Homo sapiens: one gene and its partners. The protein of the gene in region 1 interacts with the protein of each later gene in a pairwise test. Each region holds a gene or a part of one and is shown in the gene's direction. Other genes may lie near its edges. The genes, in order: KIFAP3, GTSE1, NAV1, PARD6G and DHX37.

The links.
Region 2: the proteins of KIFAP3 (region 1) and GTSE1 interact in a two-hybrid assay, tested with the Homo sapiens proteins (one large-scale study listed by BioGRID).
Region 3: the proteins of KIFAP3 (region 1) and NAV1 interact in a two-hybrid assay, tested with the Homo sapiens proteins (one large-scale study listed by BioGRID).
Region 4: the proteins of KIFAP3 (region 1) and PARD6G interact in a two-hybrid assay, tested with the Homo sapiens proteins (one large-scale study listed by BioGRID).
Region 5: the proteins of KIFAP3 (region 1) and DHX37 interact in a two-hybrid assay, tested with the Homo sapiens proteins (one large-scale study listed by BioGRID).

What each region holds. Positions count from the first base shown.
Region 1 is NC_000001.11:170,063,621-170,069,944, reverse strand, and holds part of KIFAP3 (kinesin-associated protein 3), read left to right. Parts: intron 1-1,027; exon of another isoform or gene 1,028-2,441; intron 2,442-6,324. UniProt on the Homo sapiens protein: Involved in tethering the chromosomes to the spindle pole and in chromosome movement. Binds to the tail domain of the KIF3A/KIF3B heterodimer to form a heterotrimeric KIF3 complex and may regulate the membrane binding of this complex.
Region 2 is NC_000022.11:46,299,735-46,306,058, forward strand, and holds part of GTSE1 (G2 and S phase-expressed protein 1), read left to right. Parts: intron 1-6,324. UniProt on the Homo sapiens protein: May be involved in p53-induced cell cycle arrest in G2/M phase by interfering with microtubule rearrangements that are required to enter mitosis. Overexpression delays G2/M phase progression.
Region 3 is NC_000001.11:201,809,839-201,816,162, forward strand, and holds part of NAV1 (neuron navigator 1), read left to right. Parts: intron 1-107; coding exon 108-267; intron 268-684; coding exon 685-920; intron 921-1,764; coding exon 1,765-1,919; intron 1,920-2,064; coding exon 2,065-2,136; intron 2,137-2,626; coding exon 2,627-2,823; intron 2,824-3,301; coding exon 3,302-3,420; intron 3,421-6,324. UniProt on the Homo sapiens protein: May be involved in neuronal migration.
Region 4 is NC_000018.10:80,204,623-80,210,946, reverse strand, and holds part of PARD6G (partitioning defective 6 homolog gamma), read left to right. Parts: intron 1-6,324. UniProt on the Homo sapiens protein: Adapter protein involved in asymmetrical cell division and cell polarization processes. May play a role in the formation of epithelial tight junctions. The PARD6-PARD3 complex links GTP-bound Rho small GTPases to atypical protein kinase C proteins.
Region 5 is NC_000012.12:124,947,107-124,952,333, reverse strand, and holds part of DHX37 (probable ATP-dependent RNA helicase DHX37), read left to right. Parts: intron 1-1,529; coding exon 1,530-1,644; coding exon of another isoform or gene 1,645-1,681; intron 1,682-1,783; coding exon 1,784-1,921; intron 1,922-2,090; coding exon 2,091-2,185; intron 2,186-2,274; coding exon 2,275-2,348; intron 2,349-4,152; coding exon 4,153-4,250; coding exon of another isoform or gene 4,251-4,390; exon of another isoform or gene 4,391-4,425; intron 4,426-4,446; coding exon 4,447-4,532; 3' UTR 4,533-5,227. UniProt on the Homo sapiens protein: ATP-binding RNA helicase that plays a role in maturation of the small ribosomal subunit in ribosome biogenesis. Required for the release of the U3 snoRNP from pre-ribosomal particles.

The sequences.
Region 1 (6,324 bases):
CAGTTTTTTGTGCCATTTTTAGAATTTTCTATATATAAGATTATGTCTTCTGCAGATAGAAATAATTTTACTTCTTCTTTTTCAATCTGGATGCCTTTTTATTTTTTTTTCCCATGCCTCATTGCTCTGGCTAGAATTTCCAGTACTATGTTGAATAGAAGTCAGGAAAGTGGATAAACATTCTTGTCTTGTTCCTGATCTTAGGGGGAAAGCTTTCATTCTTTCACCATTGAGTATGATATTGGCTGTAGATTTTTCATATATGCCCTTTATTATGTTAAGGGACTTTTCTTCTATTCCTAATTTATCAAGTACTTTTATCATGAAAAGATGTTGGGTTTTGTCAGATGCTTTTTTCTGCATCGATTGAGATAATCATGTACTTTTTTTCTTCATTCCATTAATGTGGTGTATTGTATTGAAATGCCCATGTGGCCATGTTGCGTGGTCCTTTTAATATACTCCTGTATTCTGTTTGCTAGTATTTTGAGGATTTTCACATCGACATTCATAAAGGGTATTGGTCTAAAGGTTTTCCTGTAGTGTCTTTGTCTTGCTTTGGTATCAGGGTAATGGTGGCCTCATGGAATGAATTAGGAAGTGTTTCCTCTACTGTTATATCTTTTGGAAGAGTTTGAGGGGTATTTATGTTAATTTGTCTTTAAATGCTTGGTAGAATTCACCAGTGAAGCCATCTGGTACTGGACTTGTTGAAAGGTTTATGATTACTGATTCAATCACCTTACTTCTAATTCTGTTCAGATTTTCTGTGTCTTTTGAGTCAGTTTTGGTAGTTTGTGTGTTTCTAGGAATTATTCTTTTTCATGTAGGTTATCCAATTTGTTGGTGTTCATATTATTCTCTTGTAATTTTTTAATCATCAAAAGAGCAGCAGTAATGTCCCACTTTCATTTCTGATTTTAGTAATTTGAGTCTCTTCTTTTCTTTTTTAGTCAGTCTAACTAAAAGTTTTCCAAAAATGTTTGTTGATCTTTTCAAAGAACTAACCTTTGGTTTCATTTTCTCTATTCTTTTTCTAGTCTCTGTTGCTGCTTTTTATTATTTCCTTCTGCTAGCTTGGGGTTTTGTTTGCTCTTCTTTTTCTAGCCCCTTAAGGTGTAAAATTAGGTTATTAATTCAAAATCTTTTATTTATTTTTTTAAATAGAGCGTCAGTATAGAGTGTCTTATTGTGGATCTGTTTGAGTTTATCTTTGAATTTCATTGAGCTTCTTGGATGTGTAAGTTTGTCTTTGGTCTAATTTGGGAAGTTTTTGACTGTTTTTTCTCCCAGTATTCTCTATGTTTCTTTCTTCCTCTCCTTTCATACCCTCATTATGCATATGTTGGTATACTAGATGGTGTTCCATAAGTCTCTTAGGTTCTGTTTATTTTTCTTCATTCTGTTTTCTTTCTGTGCCTCAAAATGGACAGTTTCATTTGACATATCTTCAAGTTTGCTGATTCTTTTCTCTCTCTGCTCAGATCTGCTGTTAAAAACCCTGTAGTGATTTTTTTATTTCAGTTATTGTACTTTTCAGATCTAGTGTTTTTGTTTGGATCCTTATGATAATATATTTTTAAACTATTTATGTGTTGAGACATTGTGTTTCTCCTTTTTCTTAGTTATTTGCACTGGTTTCTTTTTGCTCTTTGGACATATTTAAGACAGTTGATTTAAAGTCTTTGATAAGTCCAGTGTTTGTGCTGTAGCATGGACAGTTTCTGTTAATTTTTTTTATTGTGAGAATGAGAATGAGTTTCTTGTTTCTTTGCATGTTTCATATTTTGTTTTGTTGAAAACTGGGTATTTTGAATATTATGGTATCCAAAGGAAAAAAAGAAAAGAAAAAAATACTCTTCAGATCTTTGTAGGTTGACTCAGTGTTTGGATATGGCTTCAACACTTAGCCAGGCAATTTACAATTTTACCTTAGCCTTCATTTGCTGCTTGCACAGAGCCTGAAGACCAGCCAGAGGTAAAAGCTTATGATCTTCCCAGGTTTTTTCTGGGTATGTATTCTGCCCTGAGCATGCTCATGGATTTCTAGATTTCTCTTTATATGCAATAGCTTTTCAAAGCATCTATTCCCCCAAAATGTCTGACTCCCTGGACTTTCCTCTTGGGCTTTCAGCTTGTGTTTTGTTTGACCCAGCTATTACTATTTATCCCAGGGGCCAGCAGCTTGTATGCTTGGCTTTCACTGATTTCAGTGACTGCATAGCTGCACTATCCTGATAAGAGTTTAAAATTAGTCAAAACAAAGGAAAGCCCCTTGCAGCTGACCTCAAAGGAAACTTCAGTCAGTTGCAAAACAATCAGACAAAATTCCTTGGGAGCAAGGTCCACTTGACTCCTCTAGAACCAAGTATTAACAGTGGGAACGTGGGCTGCCATCTTGAAGACTGCCACTGTGCTTGAGAGTGGGGTGGATGTCTAGGGTAAGTGAAAAGACCATAATGATCGCCTACCTTGTTTCTGTAACCTTTCTTCTGATTAAACATTCACTTGGTTGCTGTAAACCTTTGACTGTCTTCCAGAGTTCTGATGAGGTTGATTGTGATAGGTTTTTTTTGCCAAGTTTTTAGTGCTTCTGGGGAGTGCCAGCCTCTAGAGGTCCCTACTCTGCCGTTTTCACTGATGTCACTTAGCCATTATCTTTTCATATATTGCTCTGTACCCATTCTCTCTCACCTTTTTTCTGGGACTTCAAGTACATATGCTAGACCTACTCAGTATGCATTGCTGAATTATACTTTTGCTTGTGTTTTACATCTTTTTGTCTCTATGTTTTATTCTGGGTGTTTTCTTCTGACTTATATTTTATGCCATAAATTATCTCCTTACCCGTATCTAATCTGCTATTAAACCTATTTATTTATTATTATTCTTAATTTTGGTTATTGTATTTTTAATTCTAGAAATTTAAAAAAATTATCTAGTTTTTTCTGAAGATGACTATTCTTTGAGTATCATATATAGGAATATAAATGTATAAATAATCATTTGAGGCTCAGGATGATGTTCTCTTTTTCCAGAGAAGATTATATTTTATTTATGTTAGTAAGGATTACTGAAAATTTAGGGTCACCTTAATTAGTTCTCAGAGATTCAATTACATTAAACTGGGCTTTTTAGTCTTGTTGGTGACCGATCTGCATCTGTTTCACAGTTACTCCTAGGAGGTAGTCCTCCTGTTTCAAGCTTAAAGCTTGGAGCTTTACCAGAGCCACTGTTGTTTGGTGCACTCTAGAATCCAGTTTTTGTGTCTCTAGCCTCATGTGATTATTAAAAGATTCTCAACCTCTCAGCCCTCTCTTTTCAGTTAGCAGATACCTCTAGGGAAAAGTAGCCTCAAATTCAAGATTTACCTCTCTTCATTTTCTTTTTCTCCTGGATCTTGGCACTGTAATTTTTTGTGCCTTTTTAGTTCTCTTATGGCCTCAAACAGATACACACATACGTGTTTTTGCCCCCAGCTTTTAAGATTTTCTTAGAAGGTGCATTGGTTTGAATTACCTTAATCCTCTGTTTCTCTATTACCAAGTCTAATGTTAGTAATAGAAATATAAAACTTGTTTTGGTTTTACCAATATGAAAAGCATCAGGAATTATAAATATTTGAGTACATATAAGAGATTATTTCCCTCTTAATTTTTTAAAAATACATATGACTTGAAAGCAAAAATTATGAAATTTTTGTGTGAGTTTATAAGGTATGTACACATAATGCATATGACAGCTATAACATAAAGAATGGGGGGGGGGGTGTAGGCAATAGACCTGCAATTTGTGAAGTAGCACAGCATTAATTCTTAAATACCTTGTGAAAAAAAAAAGGTAACTAAAACATTGTTTTTCCTAAAGCAACCACCAAAAACAGTTTTTAAAAGTATAGTGAAAACATCTACACAAAATGGAATTTAAAAAATAATAATTCACAAGGCTGTTAGGAAAATAATCAAAGTATAGTTGGGCCAAACAGGAAATAAAAATGAAGTGATAGATCTGAATCTAAGTATGTCAGTCATTGCATTAAATGATCCAAAACAATAATGTCCAATAGAACTTTCTTCCCTGATGGAAATGACTTACAGCTGCATCATCAAATACATAGCCACTGGCTGTATGGCTAATGAACACTTTGAACGTGGTTAGTACAGCTAAGGAATTGCATTTTTAATTATTTTTAAAATGTAATGTATTTAAATTTAATTTTAAATAGACCCATGTAGCTAGTGACTATTGTATCAGACAGCATAGGTTTTAATGTTCCAATGGAAAGGCAGAGATTACCAATATTTCTTTTTTTTTTTTTTTTTTTTTTTTTTGAGGTGGAGTCTTGCTCTGTCGCCCAGGCTGGAGGGCAGTGGCATGATCTTGGCTCACTGCAAGCTCCGCCTCCCGGGTTCACGCCATTCTCCTGCCTCAGCCTCCCAAGTAGCTGGGACTACAGGTGCCCGCCACCATGCCCAGCTAATTTTTTGTATTTTTTAGTAGAGACAGGGTTTCACCATGTTAGCCAGGATGGTCTCGATCTCCTGACCTCATGATCCACCCACCTCGGCTTCCCAAAATGCTGGGATTACAGGCGTGAGCCACTGCGCCCGGCCACCAATATTTCTTTTATAAAGAAAAAAGAAAAGCAAGACCCAACTATCTGTCATCCCCAAAAAATATACTTTTAAGTATGGACATGGTAAGTTAATGGTAAATGGGTGCAATCAAACAGTAAGCATAAGAATGCTAAAATGACCATATTAATGTCAGATAAAATAGGCTTTAAGAAAACGTATACTGTAAAAACTACAGAGGAGTATTTCATACTGATAAAATCTGCTACATCCAGACAGTTTTAAAGTCAAATTCTAACAAAATTTTTGGGAAACAGATGCTTCCAATTATGTACAACTCTTCCAAGAAGTCTAGAAAAAAAAGGATACTCCTCAACTAATTTATATTAAGATTTTAGAATAATCTCCATATGAAAGTCAGAAAAAGGACATTAGAAAGGAAAATTGCAGGCTGAATGAGCAAGGATGCAAATTTAATCTAACAGTGCTTTAAGACAGCATTAACAAGTTGTGCTTATTCTAAGAATATGAGTATGGTTTTATGTATTTAATGAATTTGATGTAGTATATTTATGAATTAAAGAAGAACAATACATGATCCTCCAATGGATGCAGAAAAACATTTGATGACATTCACTACACATTCATGATTTAAGGAAAAAACTAAAGCCATAAATAAAAGGGAATTATGATATAAACATATTAAATGAGGAAACTAGCCAGGTGTGTTGGCTCATGCCTGTCATCCCAGCACTTTGGGAGGCTGAGGCTGGTGGATCGCTTGAGCCCAGGAGTTCAAGACTAGCCTGGGCAATATGTTGAAACCCCATCTCTATAAAAAATACAAAACTTAGCTGGGCATGGTGGTGCATGCCTGTAGTCCCAGCTACTTGGAAGGTGGAGGTGGGAGGATTGCCTGAGCCTGGGAGGCAAGGCTGCAGTGAGCTGTGATCACACCACTGCACTTCAGCCTAGGTGACAAGAGTGAGACCCTTTCTCAAAAAATAAAGTAACATCAGTAAATGAGGAAACTTTAGAAACATTTCCCTTAACATTAAGGATGATCCAAGGATACCTATGTAACCACCTCAACATTTCACCAGGAGTCCTAAACAGGTAGTAAGATAAGAAATAGAAAAGGTATAAAGATAGGAAGAGAAGAAATGAAACTGATATTATTCACAAATTATATATTAGTTTGTAGAGAAAACCTAAAATAATGTTCAAGCTATTGGCATTAATATCAAGGTATTAAGCAACAGTTGCTGGATGTAACATCTATATACCTCCCACTCCCAAATTGAATTTTGATATAGTTGGTTAAATATTGTTAGCAAAAAAGTTATTTACAAATGCAAATAACAATATAAGGTACTTGGGAATAAATCTAATAATAAATGATGGGCATCACCTTTCTAAAGAAATTTATATCATTTCATTAAAAGAAAATTAAATCTTAAAAGTAGATTTATCATTTTCATGGATAGATGCCTTAATCTGAAAATTCATTATGTCAGTCATTATCCCAAAAGGTATTTTACTGAATTTGAAACACAATTTTAAATTTTTAAGTGGACAGGGAAAGGTCCCGCAATACTGAGAAAAATATGGAAGAGCCAGGTTGGGAACACTTCCCTCAGGTATCGATGTAAAAATAGCTCAGTAAACCAACTGAATAAAATGAAAAGCCTAGAAATAGACACACATGGGTGTGTCTATGGGTTATTCTTGCCCACTACAGAGAAAAAAA
Region 2 (6,324 bases), on another chromosome or scaffold:
AGTAACGTCACCTTTTAAAAACACAAGTTAGATTATAAAGCTCTTTTCTTTTCTTTTTTCTTTTTCTTTTTTTTTTTTGAGACAGAGTCTCACTGTTGGCCAGGCTGGAGTGCAGTGGCGTGATCTCGGCTTACTGCAACCTCCGCCTCTTGGGTTCAAGCAATTCTCCTGCCTCAGCCTCCTGAGTATCTGGGACTACAGGCGCCCGCCACCACGCCCAGCTAATTTTTTTTTTTTTTTTTTTTTTTTTAGTAGAGATGGGGTTTCACTGTGTTAGCCAGGATGGTCTCAATCTCCTGACCTCGTGATCTGCCCGCCTGGGCCTCCGGAAGTGCTGGGATTACAGGCATGAGCCACTGTGCTCAGCCTTTTTTTTCTTTTTGAGATGGAGTCTCGTTCTGTCACCAGGCTGGAGTGCAGTGGCGACATCTTGGCTCACTGCAACCTCCGTCTCCTGGGTTCAAGTGATTCCCCTGCCTCAGCCTCCTGAGTAGCTGGGATTAAAGGCATGAGCCACCGTGCCCAGCTAAGTTTTGTATTTTCAGTAGAGACGGGGTTTCACCATGTTGGTCAGGACGGTCTCGAACTCGACCTCAAGTGATCCGCCTGCCTCAGCCTACCACTGTGCTGGGATTACAGGCATGAGCTACCACGCCAGGCCTAAAATTCTTTTCTTAAAGCCCGGTAATAGTTTCCTATCCCACTTTGGAGAAAATAAAAGCTCCTTGCCATGGCTTGCAAACCCTCTGTGATCTGACCCAACTTGTGTTTTCACCTCTTCCAGCCACTCTGACTTCTGACCCGTTCCTCTCACACACGCTTTGATATTTTCTCAGAGGTGTTCCCACCTCTACATGTCTCTCACCGCACTGCCTGAGGCACCCTCCAGGGTGGGCTGCATGTACCCCAAGCCTGCCTGGCACCTAGCGAAGGATGTGGTCTGTTGTGGGTGCTCATGTGTTTGCAGGATGAGCAAGTCAGCCAGCCCGGGACCCCTCGGAGCCAGTCACAGAGCCTGGAGCAGAAGACTGCTTCCCTGAGTTCTGGTCCTGGATTCTTTTTCCACGCCAGACCATTAGAAGTTTCTGAAATTGACTTCCTAATTTAGAGGTGTAAAAAGTGAAATGTCTGCCTCTCTATATCTCTAAGTCACCTACTTGCCCTTCCAAGGGCCATCGATGTCATCAGTCTCTTGGGTATCCTTCCAGACATAATTTGTGCAGGTGCAAGCCAACACGCATAGAGTGTTGCATCCCCCTTTCCATATAGCATGGAGAGCCCTGTCCTGAATCTTGTTTTTCAGGCTTAATTTATCTTGATGAATATTGTGTATCAACACATGAAGAGCATTACTAGCTTTTGTACCTATATAGGGTTCCACCTTGGGGATATGTCATTCATCTCATCTGCTGTGGGTGAACATTTAGTTTGTGCCTAGAGTCTTGCTGTTACCAATGATGCTGCAGTAAATAACTGTGGACACCGTGTAACTGCACAACACATTGCTTTCCACACCTGTGAGTGTCTGTAGGATACACTTGCAGAAGTAGACTTGCTGGGTCGAAGAGGGTGTGTGTTTCTTACTTCGATAGGTACTGCCAGGCCCTCTAGAGAGCTGTGATAATTTACACCTTCCCCAGCAGTGTAGAAATTGTCTCTTTCCCCACAACCTTGCCTATAGTTCATACATCTTTGAGTTTTGCCAGTCATATAGGCGAAAACTGCATTCTCAGAGCAAGTTTATTTTTAATACTTTTTTTTTTTTTTTTTAAGACAGAGTTTCCCTTTTGTCCCCTAGGCTGGAGTGCAATGGTGCGATCTCGGCTCACTGCAAACTCCCCCTCTCAGGTTCCAGCAATTCTCCTGCCTCAGCCTCCCAAGTAGCTGGGATTACAGGCACCTGCCACCAGGCCTGGCTAATTTTTTGTATTTTTAGTAAAGATGAGGTTTCACCATGTTGGCCAGGCTGGTCTCGAACTCCTGACCTCAGGTGATCCACCCGCCTCGACCTTCCAAAGTGCTGGGATTATAGGTGGGAGCCACAGCGCCCAGCCTCATTACTCTTATTTTTGAGTGAGGCTGAACTTCTTGCCATCTATTTAAGAATGTTTCGGCCAGGTGCGGTGGCTTGCGCCTGTCATCCCAACACTTTGGGAGGCCAGGGTGGGCGGATCACCTGAGATCGGGAGTTCCAGACCAGCCTGACCAACATGCAGAAACCCCGTCTCTACTAAAAATACAAAATTAGCCAGACATGCTGGTTCATACTGATCCCAGCTACTTGGGAGGCTAGGGCAGGAGAATCGCTTGAACCCAGGAGGCAGAGGTTGCGGTGAGCCAAGATCGCGCCATTGCACTCCAGCCTGAGCAACAAGAGTGAAACTCCGTCTCAAAAAAAGTAAATAAAGAAAAATAAAAAAGAATGTTTTGTTTTATTTTCTGTGAACTTTATCTGTTTGTATCCTTTTTCTATCTTTATTAGATTATTAATTTTTTATTACTTTATAGATATGCTTCATGAATTAGCCCTTTATGAACTGAGTTGCAAATATTCTTTTCCCCATTTCTTGTTTAACTTATTGTGATTTTTGCCACACAGAGATGTTAAAATTTTAATGTTTGAAGGTCAATCTTTTATTTTTTATTTATTTATTTTCTGAGACATGTTCTTGTTCTGTTGCCTGGGCCTGAGTGTAGTGGCGAGATTGTGGCTCACTGCAGCTTTGACCTCCCAGGCTCATGCGATCCTCCTTCCTAAGCCTCCCTGGTAGCTGAGACTACCACGCCTAGCTAATTTTTGTATTTTTTGTACAGACAAGGTCTCCCTATGTTGTCTAGGCTGGTCTCAAACTCCTAGGCTCAAGCGTTCCTCCCACCTCAGCCTCCCAAAGTGCTGGGATTACAGATGTGAGCCACTGGGCCCAGCCGACCAATCTTTGGTAGCTTCCAGTTTAGTGTCATAGTTAGAAGTCCACACTCCCAAGTTACAAAAGTTTCCTCATAGCTGATTCTTGTTTGTTTAGGGCTTTGTTTTTTTTCCATTAAGTCCTTGATTTGTTTGGAATTAGGCCTGATGTGGTGTGAGGCATGGACCAAACTTAGTTGGCATTTTTCCAGATGATTATGTAGTTTATTTTAATACCATTTTTTCACTTTCCCTCTTTTTTTTTTTTTTTTTTCTTTGAGTTGGAGTCTTGCTCTGTCACCCAGGCTGGAGTGCAGTGGCGTGATCTTGGCTCACTGCAAGCTCCGCCTCCCAGGTTCATGCCATTCTTCTGCATCAGCCTCCCAAGTAGCTGGGACTACAGGCACCTGCCACCACACCCGGCTAATTTTTTGTATTTTTTAGTAGAGATGGGGTTTCACCGTGTTAGCCAGGATGGTCTCGATCTCCTGACCTTGTGATCCACCCTCCTCGGCCTCCCAAAGTGCTGGGATTACAGATGTGAGCCACCCTGCCCGGTCTACTTTCCCTCTTTATTTGATATGTTACTTTTATGATATGCCAAGTCTTCTTTATATCCATTTTGCATATTTCTTGTTAGGTTTGTTTATCGTTATTTTGCATCTTTCGTTGCTGCTAGAAACGAAGTATTTTCTTCCATGTTATCTTCTCACTGTTCTTTGTAGATATGAAAGCTGTTGATTGCTCTGTAATGATTTTGTCCTTAGCCATGTTCTTTTATCCTTTTACTACTTATAGTAGTTTCCAGTTGATCTTCTTGATTTGTTTCTCGTGTCTATAATCATGGCATCTGTGCAGTGTGATCATGTTACCTCCACATTCCTTCCTTTGCCTGACTGTGTTGCTTTATGTGTCCAGAACAGTGTTAAGAATTGTGCTTGGAGATGTCATTGCCACGTGCCTGGCTTTAATGGAATTGCTTCTGTGGTTTTTCATTAAGTCCGATACTGGGTTATGGGTTAATTTCCAAGTAAATGGTAGTCGTAGGTGTGCTATTCATGAGCATTTCTATGTGTTTGTCTTCTGGGCATGTAATAGAATTGTACTCCCTGTTCACTTGAAATTCAGTTGGCTCTGGTGACTCACTTGGCCAGTGAAATGGGAATGTTGTCGTGTGTGTCATTTCTGGGTGGAAATCTTCAAGAACCAGTGTGGAATTGGTTCTTTTCCTTCCTGCCATGGAGACGAGCGGTGTTCCTGATGGTGGAGGCTCCATCAGTTGGGGTCCTGGAGTGAGGAGGCCAGGGAGCAGGGCCCCAGCCTACCCCTCTGCAGACATATAGTTTGAGTGAGAAATATACCTTTGTGGTTTTTGGTTTGTTTTGAGACAGTGTCTCTTGCTCTATTGCCCAGGATGGAGTGCAGTGGCTTGATCATAGCTCACTGCAGCCGCAAGCTCCTGGGCTCAGCATCCTGAGTAGCTGGGACTACAGGTATATGGCACCATACCCCGCTCATTTTTTTTTTTCTTTTTGTAGAGCTGGGGTCTCGCTATGTTGCGAGGGCTGGCCTTGAACCCCTGGGCCTCAAGTGATCCTCCTTGGCCTCCCATAGTGCTGGGATTACAGGCACAGGCCACCATACCTGGCCTACCTTTGTTGTTTTAAGGGTTGTTACTTCAGCATGTTAGCCTATCCTAACTGGTAAGATCAATTTGTTCCTGTCTTTAGAAGGAATACTTCTGACGTTATCCCACTGAACCTAATGCTGGCTTTGGGTTGAGATGGGGATTTCCTTATATATCTATTACTTTTTATTAAGAGCCTCTAAAATCAAGAATGTATGTTGTATTTTATCATATGCCCGTTCAACATATGTGCAGACGATCATGGTTTTCTCTTTAGCTCTAGTAATAAAATGATTATATGAGTAGATTGTATGAAATGAAACCATCTCACAGTCATGAAATGCAGGGAGCTTGGTTGTGTTATGTTATTACCACTTTAATGTTTGCAGGATTCTTTTTGCTGGTATTCTTGTTAAAGAGTTTGATGTTAGGCCAGGTGTGGTAGCTCATACCTGTAATCCCAGCACTTTGGGAGGCCAAGGTAGGAGGAATGCTTGTTCCCAGCAGTTTGAGACCAGCCTGGGCAACATGAGGAGATCCCATCTCTACAAAAAATACAAATATTAGCCAGGGATGGTTGTGCGTGCCTGTAGTCCCAGCTACTCGGGAAGCCGAGACAGGAGGATCCCTCGAGTCCAGGAGTTCGAGGCTGCAGTGAGCTATGATTGTACCACTGTACTCCAGCCTGGGTGACAGAGCGAGACCCTGTCTCAAAAAAAGAAAAAGGATTATTATGCTGATGTAAGTAAGGCTGGTCTTTACTTTCTTTATTGATCACTTTCTAGGTTTTTTGGTAACATACTTACTTGCCTCGTGGAAGTAAGTTGGAAAGTTTTTTTTCTTTTAATCCTCTGGAGTGATGTAAATAGTATTGGAATTATTTGTTCTTTAATGTTTTGATACAATTATCCTATGAATCTAGTTGGGACGCTTTTTTGAAGAGGATAGCTCTTTAATAAATTTCACCAGTTATTTTATGATTATTGAAGTATTAAGATTTTCCCTGTCTTCTGGAGTCAGTTTTATAAATAAGTACATTTAGACAATTTAAATAAAAAATAGACTGGATGCGGTGGCTCACGCCTGTAATCCCAGCACTTTGGAAGGCCGAGATGGAGGGATCACGAGGTCAGGAGATCGAGACCATCCTGGCTAACATTGTGAAACCCCGTCTCTACTAGAAATACAAAAAATTAGCTGGGCGTGGTAGCACGTGCCTGTAATCCCAGCTACTCGGGAGGCTGAGGCAGGAAAATCGCTGGAACCTGGGAAGCAGAGGTTGTAGTGAGCCAAGATCACACCACTGCACTCCAGCCTGAGTGACAGAGTGAGACTCCATCTCAAAAAAATAAAAAGAATATACCAAGTGCAGTGGCTCACGCCTGTAATCCCAGCACTTTGGGAGGCTGAGGCAGGTGGAACACAAGGTCAGGAATTTGAGACCAGCCTGGCCAACATGGTGAAACCGCATCTCTACTAAAAATACGAAAATTAGCCCGGTGTGGTGGCGCGCGCCTGTAATCCCAGCTACTCAGGAGGCTGAGGCAGAAGAATCTCTTGAACCTGGGAGGCGGAGGTTGCAGTGAGCCAAGATCACCCCACTGCACTCCAGCCTGGGCAACAGAGTGAGACTCCATCTCAAAAAAAAAAGAATAAATAAAATTATATTTTCCTAGAAAATTATCTCTTTCAGCCAAGTTCTTAGGTTTATGTGCATGAAGTTGACAGATGTGCTTATGGATCTTTTCATTCCCTCTCTGTGTGGTTATTTCTCTTTTCTTTCTTTTGTGCA
Region 3 (6,324 bases), about 32 Mb from region 1:
TGCACTTTCTCCATCTATTTCTGTTTCCTCTGATAGACATTCTTTGTTGTGGCTTTTACACCTGTGTTTGTATATTTTCTTCTTCTTCTGCCTGTCTTTTCTGTCAGGACTATATTTCTAAAATGGACCCAGCCTCTACCCTGGGACTAAGCACTGAGTCCATCCATGGCTACAGCATCAGCCACGTGAAACGAGTGTTGGATGCAGAGCCCCCCGAGATGCCTCCTTGCCGTCGAGGTGTCAATAACATATCAGTCTCCCTCAAAGGTCAGTCTTTGTCTCTTGGGGTGAGGTGGTGTGGCATGAAGGCAGGGACAGGATCATCAAATAATCCATCATGCATTCATTCACCAAGAACTCACTGAGAAGGTATAATATGAAGATGCTTAAGTAATGTGAGATATAAAAAGATGAGTAAGACCCAGTCCTAACTTTGGCTCCCAGGGACACTTTTGCTAAGCCTTGGCTTCTTGCTTCACTCCTCACCCCCAGCTCACAGCATGTCCCTAAAAAGAAGATCTAAGTTTTCAAAACTAGGGGTTAAGGGACTCTTATGGAACCATGGGGCAAGTGGCTCTGAGTTTCTTCAGGGGGCTCCTAGATAAAGAAAGAAAAGCCCTTTAGGATCCCTTGCTATCCTCAAGACCCTGGTCAATACTCATGCTTTCTGGGGTGGGGGTTCAGGTCTGAAGGAGAAATGCGTCGACAGCCTGGTGTTCGAGACGCTGATCCCCAAGCCGATGATGCAGCACTACATAAGCCTCCTGCTGAAGCACCGGCGCCTCGTCCTCTCGGGCCCCAGCGGCACGGGCAAGACCTACCTGACCAATCGCTTGGCCGAGTACCTGGTGGAGCGCTCTGGCCGTGAGGTCACAGAGGGCATCGTCAGCACCTTCAACATGCACCAGCAGTCTTGCAAGGTGGCTGCCCCCCGACACCCCTGCCAGCCTTTGTTCATGCCTCAGCCTTCCCTAAGACCCTTCCTCGGCCCCTTCCTGCCTCATTGTTCCCTTTTCCTCACCTCTGCCTTCATCTTTCTTCTCTTCTGTGTTCATTTCCTTCCCTCTCTATCTATCCCCTTTTCCAGTCTTCTCCTTTCCCTCCCCACGATTTCTTTCCAGCCTCTTGCCTTTAACTTGTTTCTCCACACTTTCCCTTGCCTTTATGGAGAAAGGCTTTCCTCTCCACACTTTTCCTTGCTTTGTGCACCTTCCTCCTCAGTTGGTCATTGATGAAACTGCATTCTCCTCATTTCTACCCCACTGTCTGCCAACCCTGTCAATCCCATCCCTTCTCTTTTGTTCTCTTCCTTCTACTTTTCTTTTCAGTATTACTCTCTGACCTTGGGCTATCTGGGAAGAAGCACTCAGAATTAAATGGTACATATTACACCCTCCCCTGCCAAAACCTGATGATGTCTCTTGAGTACCCTAATACAATGGAGTTGGTTCAGATCTTTGCTCTTCCCAGCTCGGGGAGGCATGCCCATTAGTAGTAGTCCATGGTACCAGTGAAAATCCATCTAGGAAATAGCATATGTTCCCCAACTTTGGGGAATTTAGGGGCTGCTGCTTAAGAGGGTTGCTTTAGAGCCTTTGCAACCACTGCTTATCACTCTGTGGTAATCTGCTGTAATCAAATTTGCAAGGAACTAAAGGCCCCAGGGGAATCTAGATCTAGTAAGACTTCTTCAAAATCCTGATTTCCAAGGCCGATCCAGCTGCTTATTCCCAAGTGCTGACCCACAGCCTTCTTTTATTCCAGGATCTGCAACTGTATCTTTCCAACCTAGCCAACCAGATAGACCGGGAAACAGGAATTGGGGATGTGCCCCTGGTGATTCTATTGGATGACCTGAGTGAAGCAGGCTCCATCAGTGAGTTGGTCAATGGGGCCCTCACCTGCAAGTATCATAAATGGTAAGTAAGCTGGGATCAAGACAAAATTCATCGAAGTGGGAGGAGGGAGAACCCAGTCCAGGACAACCTATGAGTTGTGTGCATGTGGCAGAAAGCAAGTGTGAAGGCAAGTCTAAGTGAATCTTTTTCCCCTTTCTCCCTACAGTCCCTATATTATAGGTACCACCAATCAGCCTGTAAAAATGACACCCAACCATGGCTTGCACTTGAGCTTCAGGTAAGACCTCTAGCTCTGGATGAACCTTCTGACCCTACCCAAGAGTCTTCAATCCTGGACTCTGGCCAGGAGGCAGTAGATAGGAGAAGGAAAGAGAAGTATCCAGAGCTTTTTGGGCTGGAAATAGAAAGTAGATGTATTTGTCATGTCAGTTACAAGGTGGAGGAGGACACTTGAGGAGAGAAAAGGCCTGCTAAGCTAAGAGAGAGCCAGGTAGGTTGCTCTAAGCAGAATTAGGATTCTCTGCCCGCACACGCTGATCTGGGTCAGTGATGTCAGAAGGTTATCCGAAGAGGGCTACCAATTTGAGAATCAGCTCTACCACCCCAGGGCTGCTGCTCTGAGTTCCGATGTCCCCACTATTACTTGAAAAGAAACCAAGTAGGCATTAGTGAGAAGCAGGCAGAAGGAGGGACAGACTGGCAGGGGCTGAACCCTGACAATGTCCCCATTGCCACTCTGACCCCACTTTCCCCATCCTTGGTGGCAGGATGTTGACCTTCTCCAACAACGTGGAGCCAGCCAATGGCTTCCTGGTTCGTTACCTGAGGAGGAAGCTGGTAGAGTCAGACAGCGACATCAATGCCAACAAGGAAGAGCTGCTTCGGGTGCTCGACTGGGTACCCAAGCTGTGGTATCATCTCCACACCTTCCTTGAGAAGCACAGCACCTCAGACTTCCTCATCGGTACTGGGGTCCAGCTTCCCCCGGGGGTCAGGAGGTGGCTTCCCTTTTCCACTGTACCACCTGGAGGGATGCTCCCTTCTCTTCCTGGAGTCTTCGGCATGTAAAGGAGCTGCAAGCCTTGTGGCTTCAGACTTAGAACCACTTAACGAGCCTTCCCAACACAGTTAGCACCACTTCAATCACCAGAAAGCTAACCCCTCTCCTTGTTTTTTTCCCACAATTAACAGAAAAAAGGAGGCACATATGTAGGAAGGAATTAAACAGCTTTCCTCACTCCCTTATCTCACTTCTACCTTGTGAAGCAGGACTTATGAGATTGCCATCTAGGCAGTCAGCACCCACTAGTCTTGACAACTCTAAATTTCCTTTAATCCTTTGACTGTCAGACCCCTCTGCCTGGTACTAAGGAGTAAAAGAGGCACACAACCGGGAAGATCTAGGTTCCCAGCCATCTTCATGGCCCCATCCTCTTCCCTAGGCCCTTGCTTCTTTCTGTCGTGTCCCATTGGCATTGAGGACTTCCGGACCTGGTTCATTGACCTGTGGAACAACTCTATCATTCCCTATCTACAGGAAGGAGCCAAGGATGGGATAAAGGTGAGCCCTACCCCCTTCACTCAAACCCTAAGATCAGGCTGTCCTACCTAACAAAGTAGGAATGTTTCTTTAATGTTAGGCATGGGACTACTAGGATTAGTTAGGTTCTCTTTCTAACAGGTGGAGCAAGGCACTGGGTAGACTAAGCTGCTTTCCTGCCTCCAGCTGCCATTCAGCAAATGGTACAATGACCACTGCCTCTGGGGCCATCTCTCCAGTCCTAGGCCTTCTGGCTCTAAGCCCAATTTAAACCACTCTCTAGGGGTCAGAGCAAACAGAAAAATAATTGAGCTAAGAAGTAAGTAAAACCCTAATTAAAACAAACAAACAAACAAACAAAACCTTAGCTACTTACTACTAATAAGTATGTTATATTAACCAAGTTACTTGACCTTTTTAAATACCCTCATATGTAAAAAAAAAAAGGAGACATCACCTTCTGCTCTACCTAAATCACTGGAGTCTTTTGAAGACAAAATGAAATATGTGAAAAGATTTTTAAAAGTTAGAATAAGGAGACCGGGCGTGGTGGGTCATGCCTGTAATCCCAGCACTGTGGGAGGCCGAGGCGGGCAGATCACCAGGTCAGGAGATCAGGACCATCCTGGCTAACATGGTGAAATCCCCTTTCTACTAAAAATACAAAAAATTAGCCAGACGTGGTGGTGGGCGCCTGCAGTCCCAGCTACTTGGAAGGCTGAGGCAGGAGAATGGCGTGAACTCGGGAGGCAAGAGCTTGCAGTGAGCTGAGATCACGCCACTGTACTCCAGTCTGGGCAACAGAGCGAGACTCTGTCACAAAAACAAAAACAAACAAACAAACAAAAAAACTTAAAATAAGGCTGGGCCTGGTAGCTCTCGCCTGTAATCCCAGCATTTTAGAAGGCTGAGGCGAGAGGACTACTTGAGCCCAGGAGCTTGGGCAACATGGGAGACCCTGTCTATACAAAAAATAAAAAAAATCAGCCAGGCATGGTGGTGCACACCTGTAGTCCCAGCTACTCTGGAGGGTGAGGCCAGAAGATCACTTGAGGCCAGGATATACAGGCTACAGTGAGCCATGTTCTCACCACTACACTCCAGCCTGGGCAACAGAGTGAGAACCTGTCTCAAAAAAAAAAACAATTAAAATTAAAAGTTAGAATAAAAACTTAGTGCAAAAGGAACATGTCATTTTCTTAAAACCACCTCAGTTTTCTTACCTGTAAATTAGGGTATGATGATCACTAAAGTCCATTCCAGCACTAATAAACTGTGATGTAATGGCTAGACCCATGGGTCATATATTATCTGTAAAAGTAACTTGTTATTGAGATAGATATCTCCTGGTGATATAGTAAATTTCTAAAGATGCTGTCAGACTGATGCCAGAAATCATTATTTCATTTATAAATTATATTATTTTAAGGAAATGTTGCATTATTATTAGTAGCTTTTCAATTTAAAAGCATTTTCACACAGATAGTATTTGTTTTCAAGAAAGTAAAAAACAAAAAAAAAGCCGGGTGCGGTGGCTCACGCCTGTAATCCCAGCACTTTGGGAGGCCAAGGCAGGCGGATCACAAGGTCAGGAGATCGAGACCGTCGTGGCTAACACAGTGAAACCCCGTCTCTACTAAAAATACAAAAAATTAGCTAGATGTGGTGGTGGGCACCTGTAGTCCCAGCTACTCGGGAGGCTGAGGCAGAAGAATGGCGTGAACCTGGGAGGTGGAGCTTGCAGTGAGCCGAGATCACCGCCACTGCACTCCAGCCTGGGTGACAGAGGGAGACTCTGTCTCAAAAAAAAAAAAAAAAAGTTAAAAAAAAAAAATTAAGCATTATGACTAAAGCGGAAACATTTCCTACTTGAAAAATGAAATTGTAGGGTCATGAGGTTTGTGCATGTTAAGTTTTAATGAAACCTAGGCATCCATCAGTAGATGAATGGATAAAGAAAATGTGGTATATATACACACAATGGAAAATTATTCAGTTGTAAAAAAGGAGGAAATTCAAAGCCAGGCATGATGATGCATGCCTGTAGTCCCAGCAGCTACTCTGGAAGCTGAGGCGAGAGGATCTCTTGAGACCAGGAGTTAAAGTCTAGCCTAGGCAACATAGCGAGACCTTGTCACTTAAAAAAAGGTGGGGTGGTTGGGGGATGGGGAAGAAATTCTGTCATTTGCAACAACATGGATAAACCTGGAGGACATTATGTTAAGTGAAATAAGCCAGGCACAGAAAGACAAATACTGCATGATCTCACTTATACATAGAATCTAATGAAGTCAAACTCAGAGCAGCAGAAAGTAGAATGGTGGTTACCAGAGGCTGGGCAGGGGGGTAGGTGAGTAGGAGTGGTTGAGGAGATGTTAGTCAAAGGATACAAAATTTCAGTTAGGAGGAATAAGTTCAAGAGATATATTGTACCATATGGTGACTATAGTTAATAACAATGTATCATATACTTGAAACTCACTAAGAGAATAGTTTTTATTTATTTATTTGTATTTTTGAGACGGAGTTTCACTCTTGTTGCCCAGGCTGGAGTGCAATGGCGGGATCTTGGCTCACTGCAACCTCCACCTCTCAGGTTCAAGCGATTCTCCTGCCTCAGCCTCCCAAGTAGCTGGGATTACAGGCATGTGTCACCACGCCCGGCTAATTTTGTATTTTTAGTAGAGACAGGGTTTCTCCTTGTTGGTCAGGCTGGTCTCGAACTCCCAGCCTCAGGCGATCTTCCCACCTCGGCCTCCCAAAGTGCTGGGATTATAGGTGTGAGCCATCGCACGCAGCTGAGAATAGATTTTAAGTGTTCTCACCACACACACAGAAATATGTGAGGTAAAGTCAGGTGCAGTGGCTCACACCTGTTAATCCCAGCACTTTGGGAGGCCAAGGCAGGTAGATCATCTGAGGTCA
Region 4 (6,324 bases), on another chromosome or scaffold:
TTCAATGTATTGACTCAAAGGAATGACTAGTGACGTGTGTTTGGGGATGGGGGGTGGGGAGGTTTTGCCAGTCATATCACATAAGCAGCTGCTTTGAAAATATCCCCACTTTCCGTGGTTTTAGGCAAGTAACTCGTTGTAAGTTCATTAAAGTAAATGCTTTGTATCTGGCAAGAGATGTAAAATTGGCAGGGAGTATGCAATAATTATTTGTTTATAATTAGTCGTTCCCTTTGTAGATAACCTATTTTGGTCCTACTAACAAAATAAACTTGGCCCATGGAAAAAAACTTTTTTTTAAACTTTGATCATATTAGCTTTAAATGTTAAACAGCTGATGCTGATTGTGTTCAGCAAATGCCCTGGGGACAAGGCTTTTCCCACTGAACTTGACCCTATGAGAAGGGCTTTTCCTGGAGCTGCAAGACAGGTCTGACGATGACAGTCCTGAGTGTGGGCTTTGGGGAACTTCCAGACTGGTTCTGCTCCCTCCCAGGCTGTGAGGCTGCTGGATTTCACAGTTGAGAGGTGGATAGGAAGTGAAAGCACCGCAAAGCTTGCTGCTCTTACTGAGATTCAGCTGCTTTTCTAGAATAAACACTCCTTGCATTGTTGCAAGCCATTGATTAATTTCCACGGTTCTCTAAAAGTTGGTTTTGACAGTTTTTCCCAGTATTCTGTCTTTAATGGATAAGCAGAGATTTGCAGGTCCTAGTCTTCCATTCTGGAAGTGCTTGGAGATTAACTTAAAACAGCACTGTCCTGTCATCTTTCCTGTCGTGCTTCCCAGGCTCCTAGCTGTCTTGGGTTTCCATCATCTTTTTGTCTCCTTGCTTATTGACCAAGAGCTGTATGGAACATTACTTTTATCGCAACTGGCTCCAAGGTATTATTCATTCAACAAGCACTTCTCGAGCTCTATCCCTTCTTCTGGAAGGAAAAGGGTCAAAATTATGATAAGAAGTTAGAGTTGGGGGAATAGATAGATATGATTAATAGAGATTGATATGATATAGGTGATAGATGGACATTTCTTATTTTCTATTTATAGTATAATGATGTTATCATTGAATACATTTTAAAGAAAATAAAAATGATTTGCATTTAGAAGCTTTTGATACACTTTGTATTTTTTGAGACAGGGTCTTACTCTGTCATCTAGGCTGGAGTGCAATGGTGCAGTCTCACTTCACTGCAGACTCCACATCCCAGGTTCAAACGATCCTCCTGCCTCTGCCTGCCAAGTGATTGAGACTACAGGCGTGTGCCACCACGCCTGGCTAATTTTTGTACTTTTCTGTAGAGACATGGTTTCCCCATGTTGCCCAGGCTGGTATCAAACTCCTAGAGTCAAACGATCCACCTGCCTTGGCCTCCCAAAGTCCTGGGATTACAGGTGTGAGCCACCACACCTAGCCAGATGCTGATACGCTTTTGCTTATTGATCTTGGTATTTTGTATTTGAGATAATTTTTAATAATTTTAAAAGATGAAATCTCCCCCAACCCCGTTTTTTACTATCCTGTTGTAGGAATAATAGTTGGGGTCAACTACAAAATAGAATAATCATTATCTAAATAATGAATGAGGGTTCATTTAGCTAGAAGCATTGAAGAATAAGAATTTGCACACCTGTGTATTTCCCAATAACAAATAATCTTATTCTTTAAAAATAAACATGGGATTCATAGGCTTACATACATTTCTTGCCATATACCTGGAATTAGCCATTTTGCCTCGGAACCATGGGTCCTTTTAAGGGGAAATGATACAGCTCATAGTGTCAGGGTACTGGTGAGGGAAAGGTGTGTTTTTTTTTTTTGTTTGTTTGTTTGTTTTCTTTTTTCGAGATGGAGTCTCACTCTGTTACTCAAGCTGGAGTGCAGTGGTGCAATCTTGGCTCACTGCACCCTCTGCCTCCTATGTTCAAGCAGTTCTCCTGGAGCACCCTCCCAAGTAGCTGGGACTACAAGCGTGTGCCACCACGCCTGCCTAAGTTTTTCTGTATTTTTAGTAGAGATGGGGTTTCACTATGTTGGCCAGACTGGTCTCGGACTCTCCCTTGGCCTCCCAAAGTGCTGAGATTACAGACATCAGCCATCGCTGGCCAATGTGGACTTTTTGATGGGGTTATCTATTAACTTGCTACTAACCTAGGCCAGGCACAGCAATGCAATCTTTTTTAGGAAATTTGATTTTTTTTTTTAACATAAACAAGGTCTTGCTATGTTGCCCAGGCTGACCTGGAACTCCTGGGCTCAAGTGATCCTCCTGCCTCAGCCTCCAAGTAGCTGGGACTACAGGTGTATACCACCATGCCTGGCTTGAGTATTGATCTTTCATTGAAATTGGTCACTGGTTTGGAGTGAGGAGATGACCTCCCGGGATAGGATGGCTCCCTTTGAGGCATTTTATGTGCGGGATAGTAGGTGAATGAATGAAGCCCAGCAGATGTTGAAGCAGCCGTCCTGTTGTAAGTCCTGCTATACGAACAAACACCCACATGAAAAACAATGAAAATATTAGGGAGTGCCAAGTCTCCTGCTAACCTTTAATGGTGGTTTAGGCATTTTCATAGTGATCCCTGAACTCTGATGTTGTGGTCTTCAAATGTCACATGAAGCCTGAAAGAATTTTGAAAAACTACCACTATAAAAGGGGATGATATATTTTTAAGTTGGTACCTGAATTTTTTTTAGTAAATATAAATAGTTTGCAAAGGATGTAATTTACAGCATGCTGTAAATATTCCATTACAAATAAAGTTTTTGGTGCATGATCTTCTAAATACAGCCAGTGAAATCTAAATGCTGCAGTGATTTGATACAGTGAAATCTAAATGCTGCAGTGATTTGATACAGTGAAATCTAAATGCTGCAGTGATTTGATACAGTGAAATCTAAATGCTGCAGTGATTTGATACCACTATCATGCATTTTAAAATAGGATAAACAGACTCTTATTTTTGCCACTTTTCTGACTCTGAAGAGCTCTTTTCTAATCAGAAATTATACATGGTTTCTTTTTCTCTTTGATTTCTTCTTCCCATTACTCCCTCAAGAGATTTTTGTCCTAATATTTTATTCTAATAACTTATGCTTCGTTACCCCTGTTACTCTTCTCTGCAACAAAAAATATGTATAAATTGAAGTTCAAATATTTTTCTCTTGTGGTCCTGGGGCTCTATTTGTTAAAAATATTTTTAAGTTGTTTACTAGTATAGGGTTCTAGCTTGCAAGATGAAAAGCAATCTAGAGAGTGGGTGCATAACAGTGTGAATGTACACTCCTGAACTGTACACTTAAAAAGAGCTAATATGGTAAATTTTATGTGTGTTTTACCACAATTATAAATGAAATAGATTGTTATAGTAAATTTCTAGATTGAGTTATTAACAAGTATTATCAAATGGTGATTGGAACATAGTTGTGCAATTTGATAATCACTAGCCATCCAAGTAAACATCTGAAGAATCTTTCGTTTACATTAAGTATTTATTGATAATCACTAGCCATCCAAATAAACTTCGGAAGAATCTTTCATTTACTGTTAAGTATTTATTGATAATCACTAGCCATCCAAATAAACATCGGAAGAATCTTTCATTTACTGTTAAGTATTTATTGATAATCACTAGCCATCCAAATAAACATCGGAAGAATCTTTCATTTACTGTTAAGTATTTATTGATAATCACTAGCCATCCAAATAAACATCTGAAGAATCTTTCATTTACTGTTAAGTATTTATTGATAATCACTAGCCATCCAAGTAAACATCGGAAGAATCTTTCATTTACTGTTAAGTATTTATTGATAATCACTAGCCATCCAAATAAACATCGGAAGAATCTTTCATTTACTGTTAAGTATTTATTGATAATCACTAGCCATCCAAATAAACATCGGAAGAATCTTTCATTTACTGTTAAGTCTTTATTGATAATCACTAGCCATCCAAATAAACATCTGAAGAATCTTTCATTTACTGTTAAGTATTTATTGATAATCACTAGCCATCCAAGTAAACATCTGAAGAATCTTTCATTTACGTTAAGTATTTATTGATAATCACTAGCCATCCAAATAAACATCTGAAGAATCTTTCATTTACTGTTAAGTATTTATTGATAATCACTAGCCATCCAAATAAACATTTGAAGAATCTTTCATTTACTGTTAAGTATTTATTGATAAATGAGGTAGGCTGGCACTAATTGTTTTGCAATTTTTATTGTTGGGTGTCAACACTGTGAAGCTTCATTTGCACACTCAGGTAGATGAGAGTGAAGGCCCCTAAGCACAGCTCAGTTCTTTGAACTCTCAACAGGTTGTGTGACAAAAATAATAGGGTGGTCTCTCAAAATTATTTTGATAATTAGCTGACAGTTCAGTTAGGACAACTTTATATTTTGTCAAAAGCAAGTAATTGGAAACTACTTGACTTGCAAGGTTTATTGCCTGGTCATTAGAGCCATTCACTGTTTCAGTTTCTGGTAAGTATACTGGAAGGACTTTACCAAGAAGTATGTGACAATGAATTATACCTGCTAATTCCTTCATTTAGAGGACTCTTGTTTAATCTGATATCATGGGGAAATAAAAATATTTAGTACCCAATACCAATATGATTTTTAAATACAATGCTTTTGTCATGTCACATTTCACATCTCTTTTTGTCAAAACTTTGGAGCTCATTCAACATATGAAGCATGTTTACCATATAGCTGGGTTGGCAAAGTCAGCCTCATCATTAAACACAAATCAACCTTGTTTTCTCTCAGGAAACAGTCTGAATTTATTTTTCATTTCAAGTTAACATGCTAAGACATATTTTGAGAAAATTATTGAACGTACTGAGAAACTGAGATGTGTTTTAGGTTAGTTGCTAAATAAAGTTAAGACTGAAACATTGTAGAACTAACATTTAGCCTATGCTGTTTCAGGGAGGCCTGGCGTTCCTGAGGTGAAAGTGAGCTGTATCCCTTTGCGGTGATACTGAAGTGAGAATTATATAAAATTCAAAAACACTCTTACTAGTTGCATTAGACATGATTAAATTATCTTATGTATTCAGTTAAACGAAAGCCATATAGTGATACAAGGAAATTGCTTTGGAAGTTGGTATATGTATTAGTCCATTCTCACATAGCTGTAAAGAAAGACTACAGACTGGGTGGTTTATAAAGAAAAGAGACTTAATTGGCTCACGGTTCCACAGGCTGCACAGGAAGCATGGTGACCATCTGCTCCTGGGACGGCCTCAGGGAGCTTTTACTCATGGCAGAAGGCAAGATGGGAGTAGGCATCCTACATGGCAGGAGCAGGACTAAAAGAGGGGGAAGGTGCTACACACTTTTAAAACAACCAGATCTCGTGATCACTCACTCACTCACCATCACAAGAACAGCACCTGGAGTTGGGCTTAACCATTCATAAGAGCTCTGCCCTCATGATCCAGTCACCTCCCACCAGGCCCCTCCTCCAACACTGGGGATTACAATTCACCATGAGACCTGGGTGGGGACACAGATGCAAACCGTGTGAGTATATATGAGCTATGTGAGATGGGAAAGACAAGGATTGATGTTAGTGAAATAAATGCTTTGTGATCTGAAAGATACCGCATAAAACTGATGTTGTAGGCTTTACATGTGTGTCTTAAAGTTTTGGAGCCCCTGTGTGTGAAAGAATCTGCATCGCCTACATGCTGTACCAGTGTCATCCTTGGGTGAACGTTTCCCCTTGAATAACGGGGAGAGATTTCAAGGGTTTGCTCTGCTCTGCACTTCTGACAATAGCAGGAGATAGAGGAGAGCCCTTTCCTCTGCCCCTTCCAGGGTGCAGCCGTGTTCAGAGCATGTAACTGTCCAAATACCAAGTTCTGGGGTCCCACTTCTTCCCTTACTGAGTATGTAGACCGTAGGTTAGAGGGGCTTTGATTAGTCATTGAAAGTGGCTTTTCCCAAACTATTGTTATTATTATTATTATTATTAAGACTGAGTCTCACTCTTTTGCCCAGGCTGGAGTGCGGTGGCATGATCTTGGCTCACTGCAACCTCCACCTCCCAGGTTCAAGGGATTCTCCTGCCTCAGACTCCTGAGATTGCTGGGATTACTGGTGTGTGCCACCATGCCTGGCTCATTTTTTGGTACTTTTAGTAGAGATGGGGTTTCACCATGTTGGCCAGGCTGGTCTTGAACTCCTGACCTCAAGTAATCTGCCCGCCTTGGCCTCCCAAACTGCTGGGATTACAGGCGTGAGCCACCATGCCTGCCCCAAGCCAGTATTTTGAATTGTCCCATTGTTGTAGGCCCTGGAGA
Region 5 (5,227 bases), on another chromosome or scaffold:
GGCCCTCAGGGTCTGGGGAGGCTTGTTCCCTCTCAGCTGTGGGTCCCCACTGAGGAACAAGTGGGGCTTGCAGTAGAATCACATCTTCCTTGGTTAGTTTCTCCCAACTTTTTTTTTTTAATAACAGTTTAGTGGAGATAAAATTCACACAGCATTTAAACTCTTTTGGGGTTTTTTGTGTTTTCTAGAAACAAGGTCTCGCTCTGTTGCCCAGGATAGAGTGCAGTGGCACAATCATAGCTCACTGCAGCCTCGAATTCCCAGGCACAAATAACCTTCTCGCCACAGCCTCCTGAGTAGTTGGGACTGCAGGGGGCACACCACCACCTCCGACTAATTTTGTTGTTGTTGTTTTCTTTTTTGAGACAGAGCCTCACTCTGTTGCCCAGATTAGAGTATAGTGGTGCGAACTCAGCTCACTGCAACCTCCACCTCCTGGGTTCCAGCAATTTTCCTGCCTCAGCCTCCCAAATAGCTAGGATTACAGGTGTGTGCCACCATGCCCAGCTAATTTTTGTATTTTTAGTAGAGAAGGGGTTTCACCATTTTGGCCAGGCTGGTCTTGAACTCCTGGCCTCAAGTGATCTGCCCACCTCGGCCTCCCAAAACGCTGGGCTTACAAGCAGTGTTACCCAGGCTAGTCTTGAACTCCTGGCCTCTAGGAATCCTTCCACCTTGGCCTCCCAAAGTGTTAGGATGACAAGTGTGACCCACTGCATCTGGCCTGCATTTAAACCCATTTAAAGTGTTCAATTCAGTGGGTTTTAGTATTTTCACAGAGTTTTGCAACCATTATCATAGTTAACTTTAGAACATTTTTATTACCCAACAAAGAAACCCCACATATGTAAGCTGTGAGTCCCCAGTTCCCCGTCACCCCCGTTTTCATGATCCTGCTTTCCATCTGTGGATCTGCCTGTTCTGGACATTTGGCATGAGTGGAATCTTAACATACATGGCTTTTCATGTCTGGCCTCTTGCACTTAGTGTGATGCTTTCAAGCCCCATCCACGCCATGGCAGGTGTCGGTGCTTCCTTTTTTTTTTTTTTTTGAGAAGGAGTTTTGCTCTTATTGCCCAAGCCGGAGTGCAATGGCGTGATCTCAGCTCACTGCAACCTCCACCTCCCGGGTTCAAGCAATTCTCCTGCCTCAGCCTCCCAAGTAGCTGGGATTACAGGTGTGTGCCACCATGCCCAGTTAATTTTTTGTATTTTTAGTAGAAATGGGGTTTCACCAACATGGTGAAACCAGCCAGGCTGGTCTCGAACTCTTGACCTCAGATGATCCACCCTCCTCGGCCTCCCAGAGTGTTGGGATTACAGGCGTGAGCCATTGCACCCGGCACTTCCTTCCTTTTCACGGCTGGATCAGACTCCAGCGTGTGGATGGGCCGCATTTCCCGGCAGATGGAGCACTCTCCCACTTTTGCGGCTGGAGTGGATAATCAGATTCTTCTCCTGGGTTGAAAGTATGCGGAGCCCCTGGGCATGGGTTCTTCCCTGACCACATCACTCTCCATTCTCTGCAGACCCCTCTCCTCGACGACCCTGTCTTCATCCACCCCAGCTCCGTCCTTTTCAAAGAGCTCCCCGAGTTTGTGGTCTACCAGGAAATCGTGGAGACCACTAAGATGTACATGAAAGGTGCCGAGGCCTGCGGACAGCCCCTTGTCCCCCGATGGTGACGCTAATGGGGGTGTGGCTGGGACCCTGGGGCAGAGGCATGGCAGCCCCTCCCACGGAGGGTGCCGCTGTAACCCCAGCTTCCTCCCCCGGCCCCCAGGCGTCTCTAGCGTGGAGGTCCAGTGGATCCCGGCCCTGCTGCCCTCTTACTGCCAGTTTGACAAGCCCCTGGAGGAACCAGCCCCTACATACTGCCCCGAGCGGGGGCGGGTGCTGTGTCACCGGGCCAGCGTGTTCTGTGAGTTGGGGCAGTGTCCTGGGCAACCTGAGCCTCCTGCAGCCGTGGGCTTCTCGGACACACGGTCCTGTCCCCTGCCCCCGGACGTGTGTGTCTCGGGTGGGGCAGGGATGGGACTCGGGAGGGCAGCTGCAGGAGGGTCCCTGTCTCACTGGCTCCCACCTTCTAGATCGCGTGGGCTGGCCGCTCCCCGCCATCGAGGTGGATTTTCCAGAGGGGATTGACCGCTACAAGCACTTTGCCCGGTTCCTGCTGGAAGGGCAGGTAGGTGGCACAGCGGCTCCAGACCCTCATCTCGGGTACCGTGGGCAGCAGCAGCCCGGGCCTCACCCCTTCCTGTGGTCTCTCATCAGGTCTTCCGCAAGCTGGCCTCATACCGGAGCTGTCTGCTGTCCAGCCCCGGCACCATGCTGAAGACGTGGGCCAGGTACTGCCTTCGGTGGGAGCCTCGCAGTGGGCAGGAGGGGTCCGAGGCCTGAATGACCTCCCCGGGGCTGCCAGGACAAAGCACCACACACAGGGAGGCTTAAAACATCAGAAGTCTGTGCTCAGGTCTGAAGGCTCTGCAGAGCCACGGTCTGTGCAGCGGCTCTCGGGGAGGGTCCGTCTTGCCTCTGTCGGCCTCCTGGGCTTGTGGCCACATCACTCCAGTCTCTGCCTCCATCTTCACGTGGCCATCTCTCTGTGTGTCTTTAGTCTCCCTCCCTGTGTTCTCCTTATAAGGACACCAGTCATTGTATTCAGGGCCCACCCTACTCCAGGATGACCTCTCCTTAACTCATGACATTTGCAGTGACCCTCTTTCCATATAAGGTCACACGCTGATGTTCTGGGTGGACATGAATATGGGATAGGGGAGACACTGGGCAGCTCCCACAGAGCCGCCAGGTGTCAGTGGGAGGCATCCTGCCCTCCTGGCCCTGGGGACTTCCTCCCAGCTAAGCAGACCCCTGCCCCATCCCGCCCACCACCTCTGCTTCAGGGCTCACCCTTGCCCTCTGCCTCCTGCTTCTGCTCTCCTCCTGCCTGTGGTCCAGACCCACAGACACCTCCCCCTTCCTGGGGCTGGTGGGGCCTATGGTGCAGGGGCTTGGGGCACTGGAGGCAGGCCTGAAGGTGCAGGCAGGTGCCAGGGACTCGAGATGGGGCGTGGGGCACAGCACCCGCTGCTGGGCTGTCAGGAGCCGTGTCAGTCACTCAGCTCACGTTTTCCAGTGTGGCCCTGTCCCAGGCATGTTCTCGGGGCTGGGATACAGACACGATCTCTGTCCCACAGCAGCGTTGCTCGGCCCCAGAGGGACAGAGCAGGACATGAGTGAGGCCTCGGTGGGCAGGGGGTGGAGTGCGACTGGGCTGGTCGGGGAGAGCCTCACTGGGCAGATTCAAAGGAGCCAGGGCTGCAGCTGGGCACAAATCTGGAGGAAGGTTCTAGATGAGACAAGTTGCATGCACAGAGCAGCCTTGGTGGGCAAGGAATGTGGACCAGAGGCAGCCAGGGTGGATGGGAGGAGGTGGGATCTAGAGCCTTCTGTCCCGGGATGATTAGGGGAAGGGGACCCTTTGCCTTCTCTTTTATTTTATTATTATTATTTATTTTTTAGAAGGCCTGTCTAGAGAATTATGTTTTTTTGCTTTTGAGTTTTGTTTGTTTGCTTGTTTGTTTGAGACAGAGTTTTGTTCTTGTTGCCCAGGCTGGAGTGCAATGGCGTGATCTTGGCTCACTGCAGCCTCTGCCTCCTGGGTTCAAGTGATTCTCCTGCCTCAGCCTCCTGAGTAGCTGGGATTACAGGTGACCGCCACCATGCCCGGCAAATATTTTTGGATTTTTAGTAGAGCTAGGGTTTCACCATGTTAGCCAGGCTGGTCTCGAACTCCTGGCCTCAGGTGATCCACCTGCCTCAGCTTCCCAAAGTGCTGGGATTACAGGCGTGAGCCACCACGCTCAGCCAGTTTGTTTGTTTTTGAGACAAGTTCTTGCCCTGTTGCCCAGGCTGGAGTGCAGTGGTGCAGTCATGGTTCACTGCAGCCTCCAACTCCCAGGCTCAAGGGATCCTCCTACTTCAGCCCCCTGAGTAACTGGGGCTACAGGTGCATGTCACCATGCCCAGCCAGCTCTTCACCCTCCTGGGTGGGGCTGGTGGGGTGGTGATGCCTGCCCTGCTTTCGGGCCCCCAGCAGCAGCCGGTCTGTGCCCTGGCTGCCTGCCACCAACGTGCATTCCTGCCCCACAGGCTGCAGCCCCGTACGGAGAGCCTTCTGCGAGCCCTGGTTGCAGAGAAGGCTGACTGCCATGAAGCCTTGCTGGCTGCTTGGAAGAAAAACCCCAAATGTGAGTTTGACCAGGGCCAGGGGGTGGGAGTAGACAGGATGGGGTCACTGAGGCAGGGGCTTTGTGCTTTGTGCACGGTCAGCCCTGGCTTGGCAGAAGGATCTGGCCCCACGGCTGCTGGCCAGCTTTTTGCCACCTGAGGAGAGTCCCTGGGCCCAGGGTCACCCTGACACTGTCCTCCTTCCCTCCCCTGCAGACCTGCTGGCTGAGTACTGTGAGTGGCTTCCACAGGCCATGCACCCCGATATCGAGAAAGCCTGGCCCCCCACCACTGTCCACTGACCAGAAACCTGGCTGCAGGGCCGAGGACTGGTTTGGGGACTGGAGGGCTGGCAGCAGCCTGTCACCGTGCGACCGTGACCACCTGGCATGGGCTTCGTGGCCTGCTCTCAGGAAGTGGGTCAAGCCCTGGGAACCCTCATCCATGAGAGCTCGATCCCGTATGAAGGGTGCTGCCGCCCGTGCCATCTGGCCCGGGGGTGACTTTTTGAACTGTTTATTATATGGTGGATGATGATTTCATCTCACGTGCTGGACGCTGTTCTGTTCAGTGTGCTCTTTGGACTACATTAGTCCCCTGTGGAGCAGCAGGGCTGGAGATCTCTGCAGTCCCTTCCCCGCCCGCCCTGCCAGAAGGCCGAGGAGGCACGTGGAGGGCCTCCTTCCTGCAATTCTTCCCTCTCCAGAGTCAGGGAGGGCTGCCCAGCCCTGGCCTCACAGCCGTCCCAGATGTTAGGTGAGCCACTGAGCTCTGTGTTGACCTTGAGGGGCCTGGCTGGGGGCCCCCAGGCTCCATGCCTTCTTGGGAGGGTGGCCGCCAACGCCTTTCCTGTGTTATGGCAACAGGGAGTGGGCATCTCATCTGCCTGTGGTCAGCTCTCAGACGGCAGGGAGCGGAGCTGACGTTGGCTGTGCTTGGTCACCGCTGCCATGCCGCAGAGGATGCGCCTAGCTGGGCTGGGGCCACACGACTATTA